Linked DNA regions of Homo sapiens: region 1 is reported to be linked to region 2. The links are microRNA targets in miRTarBase. Many come from high-throughput screens and were not tested one by one. Region 2 holds a microRNA gene; the other region holds the end of a gene's coding sequence.
The links. Region 2 holds the annotated microRNA hsa-miR-664a-3p (UAUUCAUUUAUCCCCAGCCUACA, at 1,429-1,451, shown strand). A microRNA usually pairs through its seed, bases 2 to 8, with sites in the 3' UTR of a target mRNA and lowers its output. Matches are read on the target gene's strand: a 7mer-m8 pairs with bases 2 to 8, a 7mer-A1 pairs with bases 2 to 7 and ends in A, and an 8mer does both.

Region 1: the mRNA of SNRPB2 is a reported target of hsa-miR-664a-3p. Seed matches in the 3' UTR shown: 8mer at 4,038-4,045.

What each region holds. Positions count from the first base shown.
Region 1 is chr20:16,740,472-16,745,546 of GRCh38, reverse strand. It overlaps SNRPB2 (small nuclear ribonucleoprotein polypeptide B2), which reads right to left. Exons shown (of 7, transcript NM_003092.5): 7 at 2,983-4,701. The coding sequence ends at 4,542. Among named protein-coding and RNA genes, the nearest start is that of OTOR, 5.3 kb to the left of the region's middle.
Region 2 is chr1:220,196,925-220,201,999 of GRCh38, reverse strand. It overlaps MIR664A (microRNA 664a), which reads left to right and starts at 1,381; the gene lies at 1,381-1,462. All of the region lies in intron 9 of RAB3GAP2 (RAB3 GTPase activating non-catalytic protein subunit 2), which reads left to right. It overlaps SNORA36B (small nucleolar RNA, H/ACA box 36B), which reads left to right and starts at 1,324; the gene lies at 1,324-1,454.

The sequences.
Region 1 (5,075 bases), not on the chromosome of region 2:
AACTTACCACCTAGGATGCTTTTCCCCAGATACTGGCATTCAGGTTCCTGGCCAAGATGCCTCCACAGACAGAACAATTTAAAAGAGCCACTTCAAACCTTCCTCCACCCAATCCCTGTATCACGTGGCTGCAGTACACTGTCCTAAGGCATGTATCATAGCTGACATGCCTGCTTTATTTACTTAGTTTGTCTTCCAACCAACAGTATAATGAAAGCTCCACAAGGCAGGCATCTTTGCTATCTTGTTCCTCACTCTGTCATTAGCACCCGGAAAGATACTTGGTGTGCATTAAATAGGTATTCACTGAATGAATGCACAATTGCTCCGAAATTGTACGCATAGGGGTGTGTGTGTGTGTGTGTGTGTGTGTGTGTGTGTATGCATGCATTTTTCCCCTGGGCAAAGTCCCTGGCTTTAAAAACAGATTGATAACACCTCTAAGAGTCATTGAATAAATCATTAGGGTAGAAACTCTGGGGTCTTGCAACTTGCCACCAAAACATGGTCCCCAGACCAGTAACTTTGACATCACTTTATAGAAATGAAGTTTCTCAGACCTCACCCCGGAGACACAATCTAAATCTACGTTTTAATGAGATACTCAAGTCACCTGTATGCACATTAACATTTGAGAAGTACTGTTTCCAGGCAAGTAAAATACCGTAATTTTAGCTCACATTCTTCATAAGGTCTTGGCTGGATATATTTTCAAGGAAAAACAAATGCTTGTTAAATACTCAAACAGAAGATACTATAAGGCTTAAAGTTTAAAATGGAGTTTTGAGTTTCTTGCAACTGAGGTAGGAGACCAGAAGAACTTGTTTTCTGGTCACCACCCTGCTGACCAGAACAGGATCTGGTCCAGGCAGTAAAAAGTGAAGAAACCAGCAGGGACAAGGAGATGTCAAGAAAAGCGATCCTCAGCTGTCTTCATTGTTTATTAGCATAAGCCACTCCCATAGTGCCATGACAGTTACAAATGCCATGGCAACAACCTGGAAATTACCACCCCTTTCCATGGCAATGACCCAGAAGTTACCACTCCTTTCCTAGAAAGTTCTAAATAATCTGCCCCTCAATTTGTATTGAGCCTCCCCTTAATTTGCATGTGACCGAAAGTGAGTTTAACTGGGTATAAATGCAGTTGCCAAGAGCCAATACTTTGCCAACTCTGGGCACACCGTGTATGAATTAGCCCTGCTCTGCAAGGGGCAACACTATTTACCAAAAGACTGCTGTTTACCACCATGAGCTCACCCTTGAATTCTTTCCTGGATGAAGCCAAGAATCCTCCTGGGCTAAGCCCCAAGTTTGAGGCTTGCCTGCCCTGCATCACAACCATTTCCAGAATTAACATTATCCTCTATTTATCAATATACTACTTTTGAAAAACACCATTTGAGTCAATGATCTATGATGCCCTACTTCATGAAAGTAGAAACCTGCTTTGTTAGTTCTTAATCTTGGGTGACAAGGGAATCACCCTGGGGGGGGAGGGGGGTTTATAAAAATATTGATGACTACGTTTCATCCCTGGAGACTAATTGATCTGGGGTGTAGATTGAGCATGGGTATTTGAAAATGGCTCCCAGATGATTCTAATATGCAGCCAAAGTTAAGAACCACTATATTAAATAACATCTACTCCCTTCAATCATTCCTCAAAACTCACACTCCCAAAAGATGGATGAGATAGGGAAGGTCAAAAGATCTTGGTTTGACCAAATCTTCTTTAAAGCATTGCTGTCTCCTTTTTCCTTTCCCCTGCTCCCTATTGAAGCCTTATAGAGTTTGATTGCACAGGAAAGATTTGGGAAAATTAGCAAATATAATATATTGAAGTTAATGGGACTGGTGGAGAAGTGATTTATACACAGGGGAAGGGGGAGAGCCAGGATGAACTCAGTGCTGTTAAGACTGCAGAGACATTCTTAGACATTCATAGTTTTTAACATAACTGTGTAGATATATCCAGAGGTAGACAGACTATCTCTATATAAAATTCACATCATGAAAGACAAGGAGAAGCTGAGGAATCAACAGGAGGCTAAAGAAACATGACAACTACATGCAACACAATCCTGGATTGGATTCTTGAGCCATTATTGGAATATAAACAAAACTTGGATTGGATGATAATATGGGATTATTTCCTGTTTTGTTTGAGACAGGGTCTCACTCTGTTGCCCGGACTGCAGCATAGTGGCATGATCACACATAATTGTAACCTCAACCTCCTGGGCTCAAGCAATCCTCCTGCCTCAGCCTCCCCAGTAGTTGGGACTTCAGGCACACACCACCACATCCAGCTTATTTTTTTTCTTTTTGTAGACACAAGGTCTCACTGTTGCCCCAGTTGGTCTTACATGACCCTCCCACCTCAGCCTCCCAAACCACTGGGATTACAGGCATGAGCCGTCGCACCCAGCCACATTCCCTGGTTTTGATGGTCATTATTGTGGTTATGTGGGAGGGTGGTCTTGTACTTAAGAACACACATTGAAGTATCATGGAATAATGGGGTATCAGGTCAATGTAATCACAACCTCAAATAGCCCAGAAGCCTAGAAACATTAATGATTAATTTGAAGTGTTATGAAAGTTCTGTGTACCATTTCTGCAACTTTTATGTAAATTAGAAATTGTATCAAACTATCACTCTTCTGCTTGAAATCTAATAGAACATATGCCCAGACTTGTATGTAAATTTTCATAGCCACTTTCTTAATAGCCTCAAATTGGAGAACGCAAATGCCCATTCATTGGTGGAACTGCTGATATAGGCAACAGCAGATACATTTCCAAAGCATTCCAGACAGGGCGAAACTGTTGGGACAGAAAGCAGATCAGTAGTTGACTACGGCCAAGGGTAGAGGGGAATAGATTGACTGCAAAGGCGTACAAGGGAAATTTTGGGGGTGATGGAATGCTCTGTACTGATTATTACATGACTATATACAATTGCCCAAACTCATCAAATGGAACACTAACATGGGTGAACTTTATTGTACGTAAATTCTAACCCACTTTAAAAAAATTCTCTAAAATAGTCCCCCATTTCACTCAGAGTATAAGCAAATCCTGAAGAAGACCTACACGACCCCTCTTACTATTCACCCCCCTCATTCTCACCCCAGGTGAGCCACCCTGGCTTTTCTGCTCCAATACAGCCACTCAAAGCATGGCCAGGACTGGGCATGGGATCAGTCTGTGAATTATTTTCAGTTCTTAGACAAGTACGGTATCCGAGAGTAAGCAGTTAGAAAATTTATCAGCAATTGACATCACTGTAATATACAAGAACATGGCCCATTTTCTAGTAATTCACTGTTAATATATTTTACAAAAGTACAGGAGCTTGACTACTGGGATTAAAAAAGTTATTCAGAAGAGTCAGACTAACTGTGACAAAGTTATAGGAAACATTTTTTTCCTCTTTATGTATGCATAAGAGTGATGTGATACTGTCTACGTAAGTCTAAAAGTCTTTCCATAAGTAGACAATAAAAATTCCAAGTGATAAAGGTTTTGTTCAAGGAATACTAAAACAGGAACACCAGAAAAATAAGTACTGTTTTCTTTTTTGTTGTTGTTACTATTAATATGTACCATACTTGTAAAAACAAATTGTCCACTTCTGGAGATACCCATGGTTTACTCAGCAGAGGACTGAATCAATAGCCTTAAACATAAATCAAAAGCTAAAGAAAATGGGCTTTGGAAATATTTGAACATTGGTGTTTAAGAATTACAAAGAAGTAGCAAGCTTAGCACTGGCAACTCTTTATTAATCAGTCTATTTGTCTTAAGGGGGAAAAGAGACTATAGATCAAAAAATTTTTACCCTGGAGGTCTTTCAATAAAGAGATTGCATATTAACCTTAGAACAGTCCTGCCTCATGAAGGAAACAGCATTAAATGCAAAGTGTGAAGATAGCATTCCCTTTCTGTTTTCTCAGTAAACAGTAAGAACAGCCTTTATTTAATACTGAATGAAGAAAACTTGTGGAATCCCTACTAGCAGCAAAATAATATATTCATTTCTTAAAAGGATACAAAGATCAAATTTAGATCCTGCCTGGGTCTCATTTTCTTCTAATACCCAGAACAATCATTGTTACCATTAATACAACAGTCATCTACTAGCTTCTGTGATCTAATTTTACTTAACTTTTATTGAATGGTTCAATGATGTTGTATAATTAGCTCCTCCAAAGTAACACTAGAAAAGCATCCTATTACACAAGTTTATAAACCTTAAGTGTGTTCTAGACTAGAAGTCATTTGATGATAGGGAGATGGGTCAATCAAGAAAGCATTATATACACAGAATACAAATAAAAGTTTATTGTACAAAATTAAGGCCTTCGTATTTCATAGTTCACCAAGGCTAAAGAAACACTGGATAATTTAAGTCCTTCACAAAAATTTCACTTTTACTCCTCCTCATCTCTAACTATTAAAATGACCCAGCCAAATGTTATCAAAACAAACACTGTAAATAACACCAAGTCTTTTAAAGACGACTATCCCAAATGTTATTTCTTGGCATAGGTGATCTTCATAGCATGGGACGGTGTGATCTTAAATCCCTGTAAAGCATCCCTGGCAGCTCCAGCCTGCCCATCATTTTCAAATTCAACAAAAGCAATGTCATGCCTCCCTGGTACCAGACGTACTTCCTTGAAGCCAGGGAACCTATAAAGAAGAAAAACAATTCATGTATACAGCAAGTACATAAATGTTTGCTTTGTGTTAAAATTTGTTAAGCAACTTCCTAATACTAGTCCAAGAAAAATAACCATACTCTAACCAAGAATACTGAGTAGACGGAAGAGCCTCATGTGTAATTAATACCATGGAAGAACTGCAAGAATAAACTAATTCTATTTTATATTATATCAAAGCTTTGTTATTACATCAATCAGAGTTAAGAATTCAAACATTAGAGGAAATTTAGCTTTGTATTTGCTAAATCGGCAAATTGGCTCCAATTCATGATTCATCCCAAACCAAATCAATGAACCTGTAAGGAATTACTGCTGTGTGATAAATGGATTCAACCCACGGAA
Region 2 (5,075 bases):
AGAGACGGGATTTCATCATGTTGGCTGGGTTGGTCTTGAACTCCTGACCTCACCCGCCTCAGCCTCCCAAAGTGCTGAGATTACAGGCGTGAGCCACTGCACCCGGCCAAAATTTATTCTTATGTGAAAAAATGCATTGCCTTTAGTGAGACATCTGGAAGTTAGTTCAGATTCAGATCATCATAGGCATATATCTTTAAAACTGGGCATGATGGCTAACACCTGTAATCCCAGCACTTTGGGAGGCCGAGGTGGGTGGATCACATGAGGCCAGAAGTTCAAGATTAGCCCGACCCACATAGTGAAACCCCGTCTCTACTAAAAATACAAAAATTAGCCAGGTGTGGTGGTGCACACCTGTATTCCCAGCTACTTAGGAGGCTGAGGCAGGAGAATTGCCTGAACCCGGGAGGTGGAGGTTGCAGTGAGCCAAGATCACGCCACTGCACTCCAGCCTGGGTGACAGAGCGAGACTCTGTCTCAAGAAAGCAAAACAAAAACAAAAAGAAATGGTAGCAGTTTTAATAAAGATTTAATTATGCCCTCAGCCACAGTATTGTACAGTTTTAAGTCACTCACTGTTTGACTAATTTTTCTACAGACAAATTTGGTCTATATAATGACCATATAAATCAGTCTTAAAAATGTAACCTTGGTCAAGTGTGGTGGCTTGCACCTGTAATCTCAGCTACTCAGAAGGCTGAGGTAGGAGGATCTCTTGAGCCCAAGAGTTCAAGACCAACCTGGGCAATATAGCGAGACCCCATCGCTTAAAAAAAAAAGTAACCTTTAAACTAGTAAAATATAGATAAAAGCAGATTTCTTCTTGCAGCCACTATAAGAGAGCTTACTGTGTTAGGTACTGAGGGTATAGAGATGTAAAGACATGCTTCTCTGTTGTCTGAAAGTGTGAGTCTAGGAGCCTGGTTAGAAGAAACACATGAGAATGGCTACAATACTACAACATAGTAATTGTAACAGACAAGGGGACCAGCTGTAGTGGGAGCAGAGGAGGACACACTTATTGTTTCTCCAGCACACCATACACTTTTATCCCTAGATCTATGTGCATGTGGGCTAGAATGCCTCCTCTGTGTTTGTTCACTTGGTCAAGTTCTACTCATTCTATGCAAACTGGACACTGGGAGAGAAAGAGCAAGGAGAAGAGGAAGGAGAGTGACTCTAAAGAGGCTAAGGATATCTGACACACAGGCCATCTTTCTATTTACTGCATAGCTCTTACATGGAATACTCTGTAATAAAAACCTATTGGTAAACATTTCAGTGTGTCTACTTTTTTGCTAGCATAAAAATGCTGCAAAATTCCAAAGTGTTAAGTTCAGTTCAGGGTAGCTTCCCTGCTCTGTTAATTAAACTTTGGAACATTGAAACTGGCTAGGGAAAATGATTGGATAGAAACTATTATTCTATTCATTTATCCCCAGCCTACAAAATGAAAAAAGGTACAATAAACGTTATTGTATGTACATCTTTATGTAGAGGTCTGGTTAATTTATTCAACAAATAAATGAGTACCTATTAATATTTGTGCTAGAAATACAAGATAGGACCCCACCCTGATAAAGCTTACGTTTTGGTGATGGGGAGACAAACAATAAACTAAATGAATATCAAACTCTTAGTGGGCATCATGAAGAAAATAAGTAGGTTATGGTAGAGAGTAAAGGAAGAGGGTGCTTTAGGTAGACTAGTGAGGAAAGGCCTCTCCAAGGACATGACATTCAGACTGAGACTTGAAGGATGAGAAGGAGCCAGCTATGGAAAGAGGTGTAGGAAGAGCATTCTAGGTAGAGGAGCATCAGGGATATAGGCCTGGGAGCCTTGAAGACCTCAGAGTGTTCAAGAAACAGAAAGGGGGTTGGTGTGACTTGACTGTAAAGAGTGAGGGGAAAACAGGACAAGGTTAGGTTGGAGATGCAGACTGGGGTTAGATCACGTAGGGATAAGGAGATCCGATTTTATTCTAAATGCAGTGGATGTCACTGATGGATTCTAAGTAGGGGATTACATTTAAACATATCTCCCTGTTTGCTGGGTAGAGAGATGCTTGTAGAAGAAAGCAAGGAGACCAGTTATTGCAATAATTCACCCAAGAGAGAATGATGGCTTTATGGTGGAGGCAGTGGAGTTGGAAGGAAGTAGACAGATTTGAGATACCTTTTGTACTTGCTCAGGGATGGTTTTGAGAAACAAGAGGAAGGAAAGAATTAAGGGTTTCTTAATTTTTAAGTTTGAGCAACGGGCTGGATGATGAGACTGTTTACTGAAATGAGAATAAGGAGGAGGAGAGGAAGAGATTTAAGGTAGTCAAATAAAGAGTTACGTTTTTACAGGTTAACTTCTGACACAGTTAAACATTCAAGTAGAGGTATCAAGTATACGAATTGGACATGAGAGTCAGAAGTTCAGGGAGGAAGCTGGGAATGTACATATAAATTTGAGAGGGAGTGGTTTACTGTGGAATGTTTCGTAGAGTTCAAGAAAAGAAGAAGGTCCATTGGATTTGACAACATGGAGTTATTTACTTACTGACTTTTGATATGAAAGTTACAGTAGAATGGTGAGGATGAAAGCCAAATTAATATAGTCTTAAGAATAAATATTTTCACCCCCTGCTGTCTAAAATCACAAACAAGGAGCATAAGAAATAGATTCCCAGTATCTCCATTTTTATGGAGTCCTGACCTCTTGCTGAAGCCTCATACTCATTTCTCCAGCTCCCTACTGAATAATTTCTACCTAGATGTCAAACTTAACATATCCAAAATCGAGTAATTTCCTCCTGTCAAACTTGCTCCTCCTTTTTTTTTCTACATCATCTTTCTTCTTCTGGTTGCTCCTTACCGTGACATACAAGGCCCAACTTTATCTGGCTTATGGTACCTCTGACACTGTCTCCTGTAGGGTTCCCCTCCCTGTTCATTGTGTTTCATCATGTAGATCTCCTTTGTGTTCCTCAGACACAGCAAGCATATTCCTACTCTAGAGCATTTAGAATTACTGCTCCCTCTGCCTGGAAAACTTTAGCTAGTCACATGGCTTTCTCCCTCTCTTCACTCAGGTCTCCTTATATATCACATTGTCAAAGAGGCCTTCATTAGTCACTCTACTAGGCCTAGAAAATTATCCAATGAGTTTGACTTTATGGAAACTTATATTGAGAGGGACTTTGATGTCTTTCAAAGTGTGGGAAGGCCTCAGACGCTCAGGGAAAATTCTAAATGACAAGGTAATAATAACTCCAGAAAAAAAAGAATGCACAGCCAAGGAAATGTAATTACAGTAAGTAGCATGTCTCAGCAGTGAGTAATGCTTATATCATTCCTAATAATAAAAACAGTGAATTTAATAAAACGTTGAGATACAAATATTTTGGAAGGATATAGGGCGAGAAAGAGAGATGTAAATAAGCCATACCACCTTAAGTTAATGAAAAATAGTGCTAAAATCAGTGACTCGAAAGATAAAAGCCCCCTAAATTCAGTACCAATGTGTAGCAATATAAAGGGCAGAAAAACACTTTAAATAATACTATAGGAATGTGGTCAGCTGTAGACTGTGGGAAATTAGTCTCAAACAGCCTTGTTGCTTCAACAAATAGATTTCAAAGGATCGAGGATGGGAAGGAAGGGTTGAGGAGGTCAGAAGGATTTTGGACCAAGCTTTATGTCCATTTGTTTGTGGTTCTTACTTTGAAACCCAGAGGTATTGTTTTTCTTAGCAATGATCAGCTATTTTGCTTCAAGAGCAGAGAATGCAGAAAGTTTAGGTCAACCAAGATTAAGATTTAGCCAGAGGAGTATGTGTGTAGGGGGAAACGAGTGTAGGGAGGTTGTGGATATTTGCAAGAAAGTGATGATGATGGAACACAAAGCTAAGCTGGATGGAAAGGGAAGTGATCCCAAGAGGTACTTGATAAATAGTGGAAAAAATAGTAGGATTAATTAGTTTAAACTCGAAATTGTGAAATTACTGCAGGGAGTTTCTGGAGTAATTGAGATGGAAAGCTAGGAGGTGGTGGTCTAAGTGTGGTAAGCTTGAAATCAAAAATACAAAGAATCTACAGTTGCTGATGACAGGATCTAAAGTGTGACATTGAAAATAGATGATTTAAGTTATAGGAAGGAAAACATCATTGGTAGCAAGGATGGAAAGGATTGATCAGCCATTTCCTTACAATAAATTAGAATCCTTTAAAAAAATTGCATATCTATTGCAAAATTGTCCTCTGGATTACTGTGTAGTAATTTATACTCCCATGTATATTGCATGGGAGTTTAAAAAGAAGCTGTTTTAAAACTTAAATTTCAATTTATGTGCCATATAGTTTGCCCTTTGATCGTGTTTTGGTGGAGTCAGGCAAAACTTAAGCAAATTTTGTAATGTAGTGAAAACATTTTGTATACTGAATCATGGATTCATTCATGACTATGAGATAGGTGTTCTGATCTTTTATAATGGTCTAGGAGGTGGGAGGGGAGTTTAAAAAATAGTCCAAGGATTTGTTTGATCACTTTAATTCCTATAAAGCCAGTGAATGGCTTGCGTATGAACTCACTCAAAGAATTTCCTTTCCTAGGACACGTCTTAAGGACGAATGCATTTTTTGACAGTTTTCAGGCAAAGGGGAGGCCTGAAATATATGTATATGAAATTTAGTAAGGTCAGGCACAGCAGCACACGCCTATATTGGCTGGGCACAGTGGCTCACACCGGTAATCCCAACACTTTGGGAGGCTGAGGCTGGAGGATCACCTGAGGTCAGGAGTTTGAGACCAGCCTGGCCAACATGGCAAAACTTCGTCTCTACTAAAAATACAAAAATTAGCTGGGCATGGTGGTGCGCGTCTGTAATCCCAGCCATTCGGGGAGGCTGAGGCAAGAGAATCGCTTGAACCTGGGAGGCAGAGGTTGCAGTGAGCTGAGATTGCACCATTGCACTCCAGCCTGGGCGACAGGGTGAGACGCCATCTCAAAAACTAAAAAAAAAAGAAGTGAATTGGTATTTGGGGATATAAGTGGACTGTATACTTCTGGTACCTCTGAGTTTCATA